Linked DNA regions of Homo sapiens. The protein of the gene in region 1 interacts with the protein of each later gene in a pairwise test. Each region holds a gene or a part of one and is shown in the gene's direction. Other genes may lie near its edges.

What was found.
Region 2: the proteins of CORIN (region 1) and EMP1 interact in binary tests that used the Homo sapiens proteins (3 or more experiments, as listed by UniProt).

What each region holds. Positions count from the first base shown.
Region 1 is NC_000004.12:47,834,981-47,843,145, reverse strand, and holds the start of CORIN (atrial natriuretic peptide-converting enzyme), read left to right. Parts: upstream 1-5,078; 5' UTR 5,079-5,196; coding exon 5,197-5,259; intron 5,260-8,165. UniProt on the Homo sapiens protein: Serine-type endopeptidase involved in atrial natriuretic peptide (NPPA) and brain natriuretic peptide (NPPB) processing.
Region 2 is NC_000012.12:13,199,472-13,206,742, forward strand, and holds part of EMP1 (epithelial membrane protein 1), read left to right. Parts: intron 1-7,271.

The sequences.
Region 1 (8,165 bases):
TCATGTTATTTTAAATGCTCATGAGTAATACCAGAAACAGGCTTTATTTGGAAATAGATATACTATTTAAGACAAAATTTGAAGAGATTTATTTTAAAGTGTTCCATTTCTCTTTGAGAAATATTTTTTTTCTTTGCCTAGATACCTGGCACAGTGATGAACTTAATAGAAGATTCTGTCCTCACTATGCATATGGTCTGTGTTGTGGGTTCTTCCACATAAGCAAACAGGTGAAGATTAAGCCAGGCCACCCATGTGGGGGATCTAGCCCACTGCCAAGGGTGACTTTTTAGGGTGCTTGGGCCTCATCCATCCTTTTATAATCAAGATTATTAAAACAATGGGAGATGCTGTATGCTGATCTCCAGAAGAACAAAGAATTAGTTGGGTGTTAAACCAAGAACACTAAAAATGCAGCAGTAGCCAAAATTGCTGTGACCAGGTATAGGACAGTAAAAGGAAGGCTGTAAAAAGAACCTCTGAGGACCCAGGTGACTCTAGCTGTTAATGTCTGTCTGTCCTTGGATATTGGGAACTGAAGCAGATGTCTAAGCTGTAGAGCTAGAGTTGACATGAGATAGCTCTGTCTCTTCTTGGGTCTGTGGAAGTTGCAGTCTTTATCGAGTGGCAGTGATTAGACCACTCTAAGACCCAAGGCTTATGAGGCTGGGGAGCTTCCAGGGTGAGGAAGAAGCAAAGTACTAGCTACTACCTCCTAGAAAAGATGCGAGAATTTGGGAGTGGTGGGAGGAACTGAGAGACCCTGTGATTTCCAGCAACTTAAAGAGACAAGCAAGACCAGGTGTCCACCTGGGAAGCCATTTTTACATATTTTAGAATCTTGGCTTATTGAACAAGCTCAGGTCTATTGCTTACTAAGCTTCTCTTCTTGCTAAGTTTCCAATTAGTAATTTAAGTCGTGCTGTGAAGGATTGTATGCAGTTTGAAACTCCACAGTCCAGATTCATTTGAGTTAACACCTCTGTATCCCATATATGTATTCTCTTAATACATCACCTAATATTTCCAAAGCCCCCCCCCCCAGTCACTGTCATCTGGTCATCCTCTATCTTCTCACAATACTTTTTCCTCATAGCACTAAATAGTACCTGTCCTCATATTAAGTGTCTGTTTATTATCTGCCTCCTTCCCTGGAATGTAAGCTTCATGAGGGCAGGAGTGCAGTTTTGTTTATTACTGTAACCTCAGAGTAGAGAAGCCTGGCCACATAGTAGATGCTAGTATTCGTTTCCTAGGGCTGCTGTAACAGATACCATACATGAGTTACTTAAAACAACAGAAATTTATTCTTTCACAGTTTAGGTGGCCAGAAGTCCCAAACCAAGATATAACAAATTATATCTGCAAAGCCTTTATTTCCACAGAACCACATTCTGAGGTTCTGGGTGGACATTAATTTGGCAGGGAGTAGTGGGGGGACACTAACCTACTACAGTGCTCAGTAAATATTTATTGGGTGAATGAAAATTCAGAGTGTATTCTAAGCTGTAAACCCCTTGGATGTTTTCATCACAGTCTTCTCTTAATAACTGCTACAGAACATAAGGATTAGTTTGTGGTCCCAGATTTTTTAGGCTCCAATTCTGCTTCTACCACTTTCTACTTGTGAGCTCTTAGGCAAGCTATTTAACTTTGTAAGCCTCAGTTTCTTCTGTAAAATGGTGACAATAAGAAATAACAGTAAGTGCCCAATAAGTTTTAACTATTATTATGTGTCTATAGCTATTTTAAAGCACTTTCTATATGTAATCCTCATAACAACCGTATTAGGTGAGCCTATTACACTTCTCATTTTATGACAAAGGAAACTAGATTTGTTTCAAGAATGAAAAACCTAGAAAATTATATGTCACTTTATGAAGTGCCTGGCACATAGTACATAGAATAGCTTAGCTACAATAATATAGATATGTGACTTTACCTCATAACTTTAAGACATCTCAAATTGATTCACAAATCAGAAAAAAAATCTGAGGCATCAGATGTGAGGTGAGGTGAGGTGAGGCATCTCAGTTTTTGCACATATGGTTACTGTTATTGAGGGAGCTCCATGTCATTGAGGGAGCTCCACGTCATTGAGGGAGGACTGGGTGGGATGCTGGCCAAAGGTAGGGGCATATTTAGGCAGTGAAATTGCAGTTATGGGACCCCTCTATAGCACTAGATGTGTGAGAGGACTAAAAATAAAATTCCTTTGAAATTTCTTACAGGGTCATATATTACCTCCTTCCCAATGACTACTGTGGTATATTAGAGTAGGGGATTGATGTCCCAGAAATATTATGTACATCAAACAGAAGATCTACACAAATTGTTTTATCAGATACTGAATATATCAATGGGCTAGAGTGTATTATAGTACATATGGGTATGTTGTTTTCCCCCTTTTGACTAAATAAACTCTCCCCTCTCTGCAACAGGTAAATTTCCAGTTTACCTTTTTCTTGCTGTTTTTAATTTTTTTTATTTTGAAGGCTTTGTATCTTTATATCTCAGCTGAAAATATTACATTCTAACTCCCCAAAGCTATTCTCACATTATTTGCAAGTATTTTTTCATAGTTTACATGTTTGTGTATTTGTTTAATACATTCCACAAGACTGAAAGTCTTGGTGAGGGCAGGAACTCTGTCTAGGTTGTTCATCTGGCAGCCAGCAAACCCAAAATAAGTATTAGTTGAATGAATAGCTAAATAGATGAGCCATGGGGTAGCATATCTGTTTTAGCTACTGCTTGCCTGTTATCATCCTGGGATGCTGCTTGCTTCTCCGTGATCTCTTCTTGTTCTTAAATTGTCTTCAGTTGTAGTACTAAGTACTAATTTGATCTGTAATGTGATATGTGGCTGAAGTTTGCTCTGTAAAATCACCGTTTCCTGAGGTATATTCAATATCTTTAATTTTTCCATAAATCTCTTCAAGGTTTGTGTGTGTTTTCTTTTAAATTATCTAACTAGTTGGATGTATGCTTGAAGTGCTAGACAATAAAAGTTTCAATAGGCTAGAAATGTTTCTTTTTGTAAAATTATTTTAAGAAACTAGATGATGGTTGTCACTTGAAGCTGAAATGCAAATGTAGCTAGTTTTTTTTAAAGAATAATTCAAATAGGTCATTAAAGATTACTATGAGCACACTGCATATTCAAATCAGTTTGAATATGTTTTGAGACTTCTAATAGTTTATGATTCTTGACATTTTAATGAGCACACTGCATATTCAAATCAGTTTGAATATGTTTTGAGACTTCTAATAGTTTATGATTCTTGACATTTTAAAAGTTTATTATAAAGAATATAAAACATCTTTACCCTCATTTTTTATGTCATTACCTTCATGCAAAGAATACCTCAGGTATTAATTCTGGTGCTGTTGGTAACTAGAACTGGTTGGGTTTTCTTGCTAAAAGGAAGTTTAAAAAATGTTTATTTTACACCATTAATGCAATTAGCTTTAGTTCTCAGAGGAACTAAAAGTGGAAAAGTGAGGGAGACTGATCGACCCTATCTCAAATCCACTGACGTAGCTACTTTAATTTCATAGTCCCTGTAGCACCTCCACCAGAGGGCAGAAAGTGGAAGAGAAAGAAGATGAAATAGAAACTTGTACTTGGCCTCAGAATGCCTGTAGAAACCTTAGCAATTGAATCCAGCCCTTATGTTATAGGCTGAGTTAACTGTGGCCCAGAAAGACTATGTGATTTGCTCACAGTTCTTGATTCCCAGACTGGCACTGCGGTGATGGTGTGTGATGAGGTAGTATCTTAGTAAGAACACAATCCAGAAGTCACTGCCTCGGGGGAATCCCAGCTCAGCTTCTTGCTAGCTTGCGTAGGCTGGTTACTTCACTTCAGCTCCCTGAATCTGCTTTCTTATCTCTAAAATAAAAATAATAGCTTCTTCCTCAGAGTAGTTGGTGGAACTGAAAGAATACATGTAAAGTGCTTAGTATGACACCTGCCACATAATATGAACTGAATTATTGTGAATTATGATAAATTTGTCAGATACTGGTTTACAAATCGGATGTTAGAATAACATGGAATCAGTGTTTCAGTCATTTTACTATACATATGCAATATTTTCTACATTTGATCTCACTTCAGAAACAAAATACTGCCCCCCCCATTTTACAAATGCATATTTTTTTCTCAGCAATAATGTTCAAGAACAAGTGCTTGGCCCATATTTTGTTGTCTTTACATGGCTTTCTTTAAATAATGGGGATGGATTTATTAAATAACCTCATGAGTAATTTTCAAAATTTCCATTAAGATCTTGATTGAAATTGGATGAAAAATCATTTCTAAGAAAAACCCAATGAAGTGTTTTTCTTTGCCACATTTGACAATTGCCTTGGACTTGGTAAAGTAATCATTACTGTGTTGAGTACCTCCAGTGCCCTCCTTGACGCTGCCTTAGAAAAGGTAGCTGCTTTTGAATGACAGGCAGGAATTTGTTCGCCTTTTAGGTTCAGCCTGTAGGTGCCCTCTGCAGGAAATCAGGAACTAGGGTTTTGGAAGCAGTCAGGGTGGGGTTCTCCCTTGTCCCTGCAGCCTCAGCAAAGACTCAGGCAGTCTGGCAAAAGCAGTTTCTTCAGCATACCTAACAGAACGCAAGTTTCCATATGCCTGATGCAAATAATGGCCTCCAAACGTTAAACCTTTTTTGAGATAAACTTGTTCTTTAATTGCCAGCGCCTGCAGTTAATTTTGATTGGCTACACTCTGGTTAAAAGAAAATGCTTTCGATGTGATATGGCAAATTTGGAGAAAAGTAACTCTTTTGCTCCCAACCAGTCTTCCACAACTTAAACTTAATCGTCCTGTCCTTTTCTGCTGCCCTCGTGGAGTGTAAGTTTTTGAGGGAGACCAGCAGAAACTGACTTTCCATATGCCCCTGAAGAATAACTTCTTTGAATGCAAAGAGGTGGGGACACGGAGGATCTGTCATTACGGGTTATTATGGGTGGGACCCAGAGACGGGAGTGAAGGGAGGGTGTGGCCCGCGGGTGGGATCTGTAGAGCAGACAAAATATGGGGCCCCTGGCGCTTAAAGTTCAGTTTGTCTCTCTTGAGCTTGGAGAAAATCATCCGTAGTGCCTCCCCGGGGGACACGTAGAGGAGAGAAAAGCGACCAAGATAAAAGTGGACAGAAGAATAAGCGAGACTTTTTATCCATGAAACAGTCTCCTGCCCTCGCTCCGGAAGAGCGCTGCCGCAGAGCCGGGTCCCCAAAGCCGGTAAGATCGATGATTCGCTGTCCTACCGCAGCCAGGTGTGATGGCCTCTTAGTCCCGGTGAATTCAGGGTCAGCCCCTCCCGCCCCCGTCCTCTCCTCCGCCCGATGCCACCTCCTTCCCCAGCCGCCGGTGAGCTCCCGCTCTGACAGTTCCGCGCTCAGCGCCCTGCACCCAGTTCCCAGGCGCACGGCCCTGGTCCCGACCACCACCCCGGTCGCCCGGCGTCCGAGACCCTCCCAGGGTCATGGGCAGGGTTTCCTTCAGTGTTCGAGTCGGCTCGATCCGGAGACCCCGGTCTCCATGCCGGGGGTGATGCCACCTTTCCTGCAGAGTCCCTCCTCCGCACGGTGCCCTCCAAGCATCTAGTGGACTTGGCTGCACACTGGCGGCAGGGGAGGCTGCAGGTGGAGCTGTCGGAGCCAGCCCCTCGGGGATCTACAGCTTCCTGTCTGCGCCGGCGTCTCGGGCGCCGGGTGGCTGGAGGGACTGTGCAGCAGTCTTGCCTGCCCCAGACGTAAGCCCCCTTCCCCAGCTGCGAGCGCCTGGGTGTCGGTCCCTCCACAGCCCGGGCTCGCGCTTGGTTCCCCGGCCCCCAGTTGGTGCCTGGGGATCACTCGCCCGTCCTAAGTGCTGGCATCCCAGAACTGGCCCTCTTGCAGAGTGCTGGGAACTTGTAGGTCCCTGCGTGCAAACTTTCTCCGGCGTGAACCTGCCTAGGCACAGGAGGGCTGGCCGCCGGGGGCGCAGGCTCTGCGCTGTAGGATTTGGTTGGCTCAGATCCAGTCCTGGGAAGGGGCAGCGTTGGCTCTCGTTCAGGAGGAGAAAGAAAGGGAAGGGCACCACGGACAGTCCCTACTGGCCTGAGCCCCCAGGAAGAAGGTCTAATTTGCGGCTGCCCCTCTCCTTCGGTGTCATTAGGGCCCCGGAATCCGCTTGCTACCGCGAGGGTCCCAGCTGCTCCGAATCGGGGACCGACCGGTGACGCTAGCTGCAGGCAGAGAGGGCAGGCTGTGCGGGCGGAAGGGAGGTGGTGTCTTGTCGGATCTTACTGGGACCCAGTTCCTGAGCTCCCGTGGCAGGCGCCTCACTCCTGCTACTACCTGCTCGGGGCCAGTGGATGGCAGTGTACGCGCTTTTTGCACGGCTCCCGGTTCCTGGGACCGAGCCCTGGGAGCTCTGACTTTGAATTCAGCAGGGAAGCTTCGGGGCTGGGCATTCCCAGGGAAGCTGTTCGAGTAATTCATAAAGTGGAGCTTTCCTCCCGCGGGAAACTTCTGAGAACGATGCGCTGCGAAGACGGACTCCTGTACAAGACTTCGATGACTGACATAGGCACAATTGTGGCTTCTAGTTTTTATTTTAACTTTTTATTTAAAGTAACTTATCGATGGAAGCGAAACTCTGCAAAGGAACGTCAGACCGCTACCAGAAAGGGGGTGAAGTCAGGACTTACTGGTGATTATTGTCCAAGGACACATTTAAGCAGATAGTTTTGAAATTAATTTTGGCATAACCCTGAGACAATGAGAAGAAACAATGCATTTATAAAAAGTTATTAAACCATTTTTTTTTGTCACAGTCAAAACATTCATTAGCTTGTTTCTATTATTAGGTGCCCAATAGGTTTGTTGTGTGAGATTGTGCTAAAAATTGGTCCTCAGATCCTGGGACTTGAGAGGTTAGAGGAGGTTCCTGGGGCTTGCGAGGTTAGAGGAGATGTCTGCATAGACTCACGTGTGGGCTTGGCTGACCAGGCAGGTTTTCCATAGAATGCTTTCCAGGACACCAAGAATTTCAATAGGATGAACTATTTTGGGGTTATTTGGGTGTGGAAACACATCAACCTCAAAACCCCAAGATTCTATAAGGCATTTTTTAAGGGGGAGGGGACTCTTTCCAGAAAGTTCCTTTCAGGGTAGGCTTACAGGACCAACGATGAAAGCCTCTGTTAACCTTCCTGTGGGTTAAAAAGACACACCAAGAATTGCTCTATTAACCTTATCAAGCACATATCCAGGTACAGAGACACTTTCTTAAAAGATGCAAAATTCATTCCATCAGAAACCTTCCTCATAATGCTGCAGAAATCACAATAGCAACAGCATAGAAGGCAGGCATCAGTGCTTCCGCATCTTGCATTCCACAACCAGCTGTGGTTTCCTTTTGGAAGGGTCACATTCTCCACCATAGCTTCATGTGGATTTCAGCAGTTGCTAGTTCTATTGACTGGCCAGCCCCTCTGTTGACCTCCCCCACTGTTGGGGGCAGACAGGAAGTTAGAGGAGAAGCTGAGTGGCCCAGGAGCTTCAGAGAGTCACTTTCAAAAGCCTGTACTTTCAAATCTCCATACTGTTAATGAGGTACTCCTTTCCTTATTTTTCCTCTTTTCCGCACTTGTAGCCTCTTTCAACACAAAGACTTGTGGTCTTAGGGTTTCTGAGTGTCCCCACTGCTGGGGTAATAAGAGCTCTCTGAGGAGCAGGAGAGCCGCAACACTGAATTGTTGCTGAGCGTATCTGAGGGGGAAAGGTTTGTTTGACCTGCTACTTCTACCTAATAAGTTATTCAACAAGTATGGATTCATGCATCCTGTTAGCCCCATCACTATTCTTGGCATTCCATTTTGCTGGACCAAATGGAAAATGAGGCTGGCTGGCTAAAGGGTACTGACCTGATACTGGCTGGCTAAACATACTAGGTTCACACTAAACACTCAAGGGATTCCAAGACTTACCTGTTCCTCAGAGTCTACACACTCACATAAAGACACACACAGACATAATACACTTGTTTGTTTTATGTCTGTTCAGAGAGGGTGGAAATGGCAGACCCCTTAAGAGTAGAAGGTGCTGTAGATGACCTGCCTTGGTGGGAAGAGTAGGAGCTTTGGTGTCAGACCTCTGACT
Region 2 (7,271 bases), on another chromosome or scaffold:
GTAGACTCTATGGAGCCTGGTGGGGCACATAACTGAAACGTGGACACAGGAAAGGGCAGGAGGCAAGTCAGTTCCATTTCATCCTTCATTTCGTTCACAGAATTCTAAATTTGGGAGGGATCTTGGATCTCATTCATTCTCCTACTGTATGCAGAAATCTAATTTTTACACCATCTTGAACAGATGGCCATCCTACAGATCTTAAAATTTCCAGATGCGGGGAGCTCAGAACCTCAGTGTGTACCTCCACACTCATTCCCCTTAGCAGGCCAACTCTAATTTTATTAAAGTTCCTTAAATCAAGCAAAATCAACTTCCTTATAACTTCCTGATTCTGCTGGCCTGAAACAACTCAGAAAATATCTATTCTGGTTTTGTTGTTGCTCCACCCAATGATTCTCATCCTCTAAACACTTAACGCCTATTTAATATTTAATGAATACAACTTGATGGATCTACATTGCATTATCTTTTCTTCTTCTTCTTCTTCTTCTTTTTTTTTTTTTTTTTGCCTAAGGCTCAGAAGGGCAGGGAGCATTTTTGAAGTTTGGAATTATGTACATAGTCAATCATACTCACGGGGTTTTTGATTTGGAGGTATTTAATTTTCTAAATGCATGAATATGGTTCCTTCTTTAACCTCCCACATGTATGTACATAGCTGCCTAACACAAAAGCTCAGGCCTATTTGGGACTCTCAGATGTACATACTCGGAGGGACACACCCAGTGTTGCTACCTACTAGGTCATGGTTAGATCAATCCAATACCAGGACACAGGCTTCTAGCTAGGCCTTTTGGGGATTGTCCCATAATTTGGTCCATAGTTCATGTAGCCCACACCTATACATTGTCACCACCCATCATAGTAATTACGGGAACAGGCTGCCCATCAAATGTAGCCTCCTTGTAATTGCTGGCCAGCAATCTGGGTATCAGCCCCTTGAGAAGAGCTCCTAACCCTTAACCAGCGTAGAACGGGAATTTTCTCACCATAAGCTTCCCTTTTCTAATACTCTTCCCAGATCCGCCCAGGTGATCTTGAATTTCTGGACTGCACTTGCTATTCAGTAATCAAGGAAGCCCAAATATGGTTCCAGTTAGGGGTTTACTTGAATCTTCAGCACCCAGCCCCGACATACACACGTCCTGAGACTGCTCTTTGCAACAATTCAGTCCCTGGTGTCCTGCCTGGGTAAAACCATTTCCTTCAATTTACCTGGGAGATTCACTGATACTAAAGCAGAAAGATGAAAGCACAAACACCTGTGGTGATTGCTGCTTCTCTCTTCCTTTTTAACAAAATGTTTGGGTCAAGGTTTTCTTTTGTGTTGTGGAGATGGCATTTCCCTGGAACTGCAATGGAATCCTCTGCTGTTGGTGCGCTTGGACTTACGTGGCTGTGACAGTTTTTCTATTTGCTGAGCCTGTTTCATGAATTGTTTCTTCAAACCGGGTAGTTAAACTAGAGAGCCCTTTCAGCACAGGTTGAAAGCGTGGCAAGAATCCTGGAGCAGATGTAAGACAGCTGACTAGGAAGACAGAGGGGCAGTGGTGTTATCTTGACGCTGCCATGTAACCACAGGCGAGACACTTGTCTTCTTGCTTTCGGAAGTTGAACTTGGTGGTTCTTTCAGACCCCTTATGGCTCTGAGATTCTAAGATTCACCCAGGCGTGGTAATCCCAGCTACTTGGGAGACTGAGGTGGGAGGATCACTTGAACCTAGGAGTTTGAGACCAGTCTGGGCAACATAGTGAGACCCTGTCTCTAAAAGAAGAATTTTAAAAAGCAGGGTGTGGTAGTGCATGCCTGTAGTCCCAGCTACTTGGGAAGCTGAGGCAGGAGGATTGATTGAGCCCCAGGGCTTTGAGGCTGTAGTCAGCTATGATTGTACCATTGCACTCCAGCCTGAGCAATGAAACAACACCCTGTCTCAAAAAAAACAAAAACAAAACAAACCAACAAACAAAAACACCAAAAAAACGAAAAACAAAAAAATTAAGATCCTACCATTTCTATTTTGAGATATCCCTTGCGCTGATGCTAGCAGCTGGCTTAATCTGTAAAAATTGATAGAAAAGTGAAATAGGGCAACGTGTGGCATTGAAAAGGGCATTTTGCAGAGGATTCTCGTCTCCTGGGTGCCTTGAGGACCCACGGAGCCTCCTCTGCCCCATCCACTCACAGATTCTTTAGGTATGGTGTTCCCCGGACTTACCCTCAGCCATGAGCATTCACTCGGCACTAGGAATAAAAGAAAGAGGTTTGAGTAATTAAACGTAAAGGGTGCCAGCTCAGATGAGGAGGGCAGGCTGAGTCTGTGAAGACATTGACAACAGCAAAGCATTCACCAGGAACAGAATCAGGCTCAGGGAGAAACTGAGCTGGCTCTGGGAAAGAAACTCCACCCTCTTCTTGAGGAGGGAGACCCTGCAGCATGAAGGTGTGGTGTACAGGTGTGGACAGGAGCAAATGAGGAACAGTTTGAGAGGAGGAAGAGGAAGGTGCAACTAGGACAGGAGGGAGGGAGGGAGGGCAAGTGGGATGCTGTTTCCCAGGCCTGTGTGTTGAGGGAGGAGGCAGGCAGAAAGACCTAGAAGCAGGAGAAAAAGCTAAGTGGATAGAGAAAGACAGAAAGGGGGCAAAAGAGCAAGGGAGAAGTGATGAGGATGTTTCCCCTTCCATCCTTCCACTCTTGTTTGGGGACCACCCACCCTCAATGTTTCAAGGCAGTCCTTCGGTCAAAATTCGATTCTTTGTCCCCTGTGAAGAATCTTTTGTCGCATTGGCTACTTCTTGTTTTTTCAGGATGGTTGACACCTCTTTGGTATCATTTTAGTTTCCACTACATGTGCCCACCAGGCTGGAACCTCTTCAATGTTTCTCCTCTTCCAGGTCAGATCAGAGCTGAGAGCAAAACGGGGTTCTTGATCCTTAGACTTCTCATTTCAAAGAATCAAAGACCCTTCCCCAGGACGCTGGAGAAGGGGAGTTGGACAGAGGTTTGCAACCCTGAAACAACTAGTTTGGGGCAAGGCAGTGTGTTCACATTGATCTCAGAGAAAGCTCTGAAGCTGAGACCTGGAGCTTCCCTTTATTGAAAGATAGTCTCCATGTCTGGGTGGGGTGGGGACTCCTGTGCTGAGGGTTAGAAGGTTGCTCGGAGTTTGCAGGGGGATATTGTTCGGGTCTGTTTTGGCCAGGCAGGCTGGCTCTGCTGGGTGGGACTTCTCAGCAAAACGACAGGGAGAAGCAGTGGCCTCGGAAGACCCTGTGTTTTTATAATTGGCACAGTTTTAAGGGGTATATGCTGACTCTCTGATTAACTCAGAGAGGGTAGGAGGAAAAGAGAGAACAGTAGATCTGGTAGAAGTTCTAGAACTTCCACCAAACCCTAAGCCAAGAGACAGGAGAGAAAAAATCATGCCAGGTGGAAGAGCCCTGCCTGGAAGGTGCGAAATGGCTTCAGTTCTGATTCAATTCCATTTCTCCTTTGGGGACGTGCATTTCCTTCTTATCAAGGGGTTGGACTGAATGACCTCAATGCCTCTCAACCTCTAAAGAACGAATTGAAATGAAGCCCTGAGCCCACCTGATGGGTCTGGGGTGTCTCTAGGCGAGGGGCCTCCCCTCCCAGCTTGCCGCCTTCCAGGAGGCTGCAGCTTTGCTGGTTGAAGCATGTTGCCGCCATCTACTGTTGGTCCCACCCAAGCGCCGCTGGGGCCGGGCCACACCTAGGTTTTCTTCCCAAACCCCTAGTTATTATCTTGGCAACCTCTCCCTTGAAGACATTCTGGCTGCCAGAACACTCGTTTGTCAAAAGCAGAAGGCAACTCACGCTTCCGTCCTCGCCCAGGGAACATCGCCTGATCCCTTGACCAGCTGCAGTCTGGGGGAGTAGGCTGGGCCCCAACTTCACAGCCCAGGTCTGGCCTCAGTCTTTGCAGATGTTGCCCAGATCCACCCCTCCCCTGGACACGAAGGAGGACAAGCGGAAATAAGAGAGAGAGGTTATTCTTCTTGGGAGCATTTGCAAAAACAATATTCATGCCACTTGTTTGCCTTTAGCATAATTGTTGGCCCTCAGGCTCTGCCAGAGAAGCATAAAGCCCATTTCCCCGGCCCGAGCCTCTCATTTTACACAGAGGAAGAGACCAACCAACCAGGAACTGTGTGGCCCCCACTCTGTGCCTGGCACAGGCCTTCAGCCCTCATGCTAATCCTGTGAGGTCTACAGGTCACAGTTCAGACATGGTGGAGCCAGGATTGGAGCTGAGAATCCCTGCTCTGTGCTACTTTGAACTCTGTGCCTGTAGGAGCCACTGACCAGAGAGGTTATGTGATTTTTCTAAAGTCAGAAGTTGGTCAGGGGCAGATTTATTATAAGAATCTGGTTCTCCAATAGGTTCTCTCTCTCTCATACAGTGTGCTTGCCCCACTCCCAACCCACACCTTGGCTCCTCACCCCTGACTATGTGAGACTCTGTGCTAGTCTACACAGCACCAGACCAACACGACTTGCTGTATAATAACCCCCATTTATAATAGCCTGCATTTGGAAGATGAAAAAAATAATTGTTTTCCCTGCAGCATGTAGGTCCCTGTTACTTTTGCTGCTTGATTGACGATGTTTCTCCTGGTTGTAAAAACTGCCCTGTATTTTCCAACATCAAGTCCTACCTGAGGTTCCTTCCTTCCACACCAAACATGAGCTATGCAGAGGCCGGAGGAAATGGCCCCTGAGAATCCTTTTTCTCCCCATGTTTCCCACGGAGAAATTAATCCCCTGCTTTCCCACCCCTGCATAAACACAATATTGAGAATGGAAAAGTACACTTGATATAAAACAACAATAACAGTGGCCAGAGAGGCTCATCCAAGGTCTCATCCACTCAGCCTGCCTTTAATCCCAGTCTTTTCCTCCTCCAGACACATCCTCTCCGGCTGCCCCCAGAAGGGAGTGCTTCCTTTTCTGCTTTTGTGTTACATGCGCATCCATTTTGCCAACCAAATGATCCTTCATGGGAAACAAACACATCAAAACCAAACCAACAAAAGCAAAATGCTCCCGACTTGCGCAGAGGACAGAAAGGCTTTCGTGCCACCCTGCGTGGTGTCTTAGGAAGGAGAGGCAGCTGCGGAGTTTCAGGTGTCACGCTGAGGAAGGTGGTGTGGGGTCGTCTGACTCATGGGGGTCAGTTGACCAGAAGCGGCTACGCCTCTCTCTCTCCTCGTGCTTTGGAGGAAGCACCACGTCTTTGGTCAGATGCTGTGAGAAAGCTTTCTCCAAAGTTTACAGTTATCCAGAAAGAGATCAGAATCTCACTGTCAGAAAAACACTGGCCAGCAAAAAGACAGGGAGTGTCTAGCAGTAATCTCAGGACTGTGTTATGACTTGACTGAGATTTTGAGATCTAAGGTGAAGGCCTCTGGTGAATCTTCTGATAACCTGGTAGTTCTGCTGTGAAGACAACCATGCTAGAAAGAGGAAGAATTAGTCTAGTCAGGTAATCTCACCGGCAGAATTAAAAGTCATGGTGGTCGTTGCAAAGAGCACACTCGGACGTATTGTCAGAAAAATCTTTCTAATCGGGGAAGGGATCCTGGTAGGTAGTGAGCTCTCCATGACTGGAGGAGGTTAAGCATGATTCAGATAGTTCTTTGGTCAGATTTGTAGATGACTTTCTTGAATTGAAAAGGAATTTTAAAGACCTCCCTCTTCAGTCCTGAGATTCTATAATTCAAAGAAGTAGAGAGAAAGATTAAATCTGCAGACAAACTAGTGTTTAGAAATTTAAGACATTTTCTTTGCATTCACTTATTTCCTCTTGAACAAAAGGCAACACACACATATATACCCTTGTATATTCAAATGCACTCAGGAAACAGTCACATATTTACATAGGTATTTATATAGAAATATATAACAAAGTTTGCATACAATAAGATGCTCAATACATAGTTGTAGTAAAGTATTAAGCAATTTCTGAAAAATAATAAAGGACTAAAGTCTATGTATGTTAAAAAAAAAAGGAAATATTTTCCCTCTATAATTCTGTGTTTATTATGAAGTCTTCAGTCATTTTGACATTGATTATTTTTCCATGGGGAAGAAAATATGGCCATCCTTAATTCATTTATTTGTTCATTGAACAGATATTTATTTGGTACCTGTCACAGGCAAGACTCTCCCTTCAGGGACTTAAAATCTTAGGGCTGTCATCAGTGGTTTTAATAAAAAGCTATGTGAGGGCAATAGAAGAAGAGAGAAAAGAAAACTGCTCCTAACCTATGGATCTGGGAAGGCTTTTTAGAAGAGGTAGGATTTTAGCTTGGTTGAAAAGAATTTGATAGACTGTCACTGAAAGAAGAATACAAAAGCAGAGCTTTTATTTTTGGAAATCCAAGTCCTGGGATTGCAAGGGCTGGCTTGAGGTGCGTGGAGCCTCTTTCCTGCTGATTGGTGGTGGTTAGAGGTGGGGGTTTGGAGGTTCTTGAGCAGGGGAGTGCCATGGTCAGATAACCCAGTAGCAGGGTAGAAGATATGTTAGAGGGGAGTTGTTCAGAGACAGGGTCATGGGTGAGGCTGATGCCATGGTCAGGCTAGGACCTGAACTGGACAGTAGCAATGGGAATAGAACATAAGGAAGGATGTGAGATAAGTAATGGAGGTAGAAACTCAGGGTAGGACTGTGATGTTTTGGGCAACAAAAGTGGAATGAGGGGAAGGGAAGATAGGACATTTGGCAGTGGTCATTACTGCTCTTTTCTCCCCAGAAAAATCCTGGCCTTTCTTAAGCTGCCAGGGAAATGCCAGCCAGATCCATACCCTGCTTCTCAGAAAGCTCTCTCGTGCCCTTTTGTAGAGAAGGTCTCCATGATGCCTTTCATTCTGGGAGAATCTCACCCACTCTCAAATGAATCATGGAAATTTGAGCCCTGAGGGCCTCCCCCAGTGTTTGCATCGTCTTCAGCTCCTGATTTCTGAGCATGCTCCCCTCCCACCCCTCAGCTAGGGCTAATTCTTCAGTGACTCAAGCCCCAGGATTTTGACCACTTCCTTCACTGGGGAAGTGGGTTTTTGGTTGCTCTATTCTATTGTGTTGCTCCCAGTTATTGTGTTTTAGGTCACTCTTAAAGAATTGCTGCTGCCGCCAGGCCCCATGGCAGTTCAGTGAACACACAGACTTCTGGACAGGAAGAAGTTATCTGACTCCTAGGTTAGCAATCAGGGAACCAAATTATGCACCTCTAAACTTCCCTTCTGGTC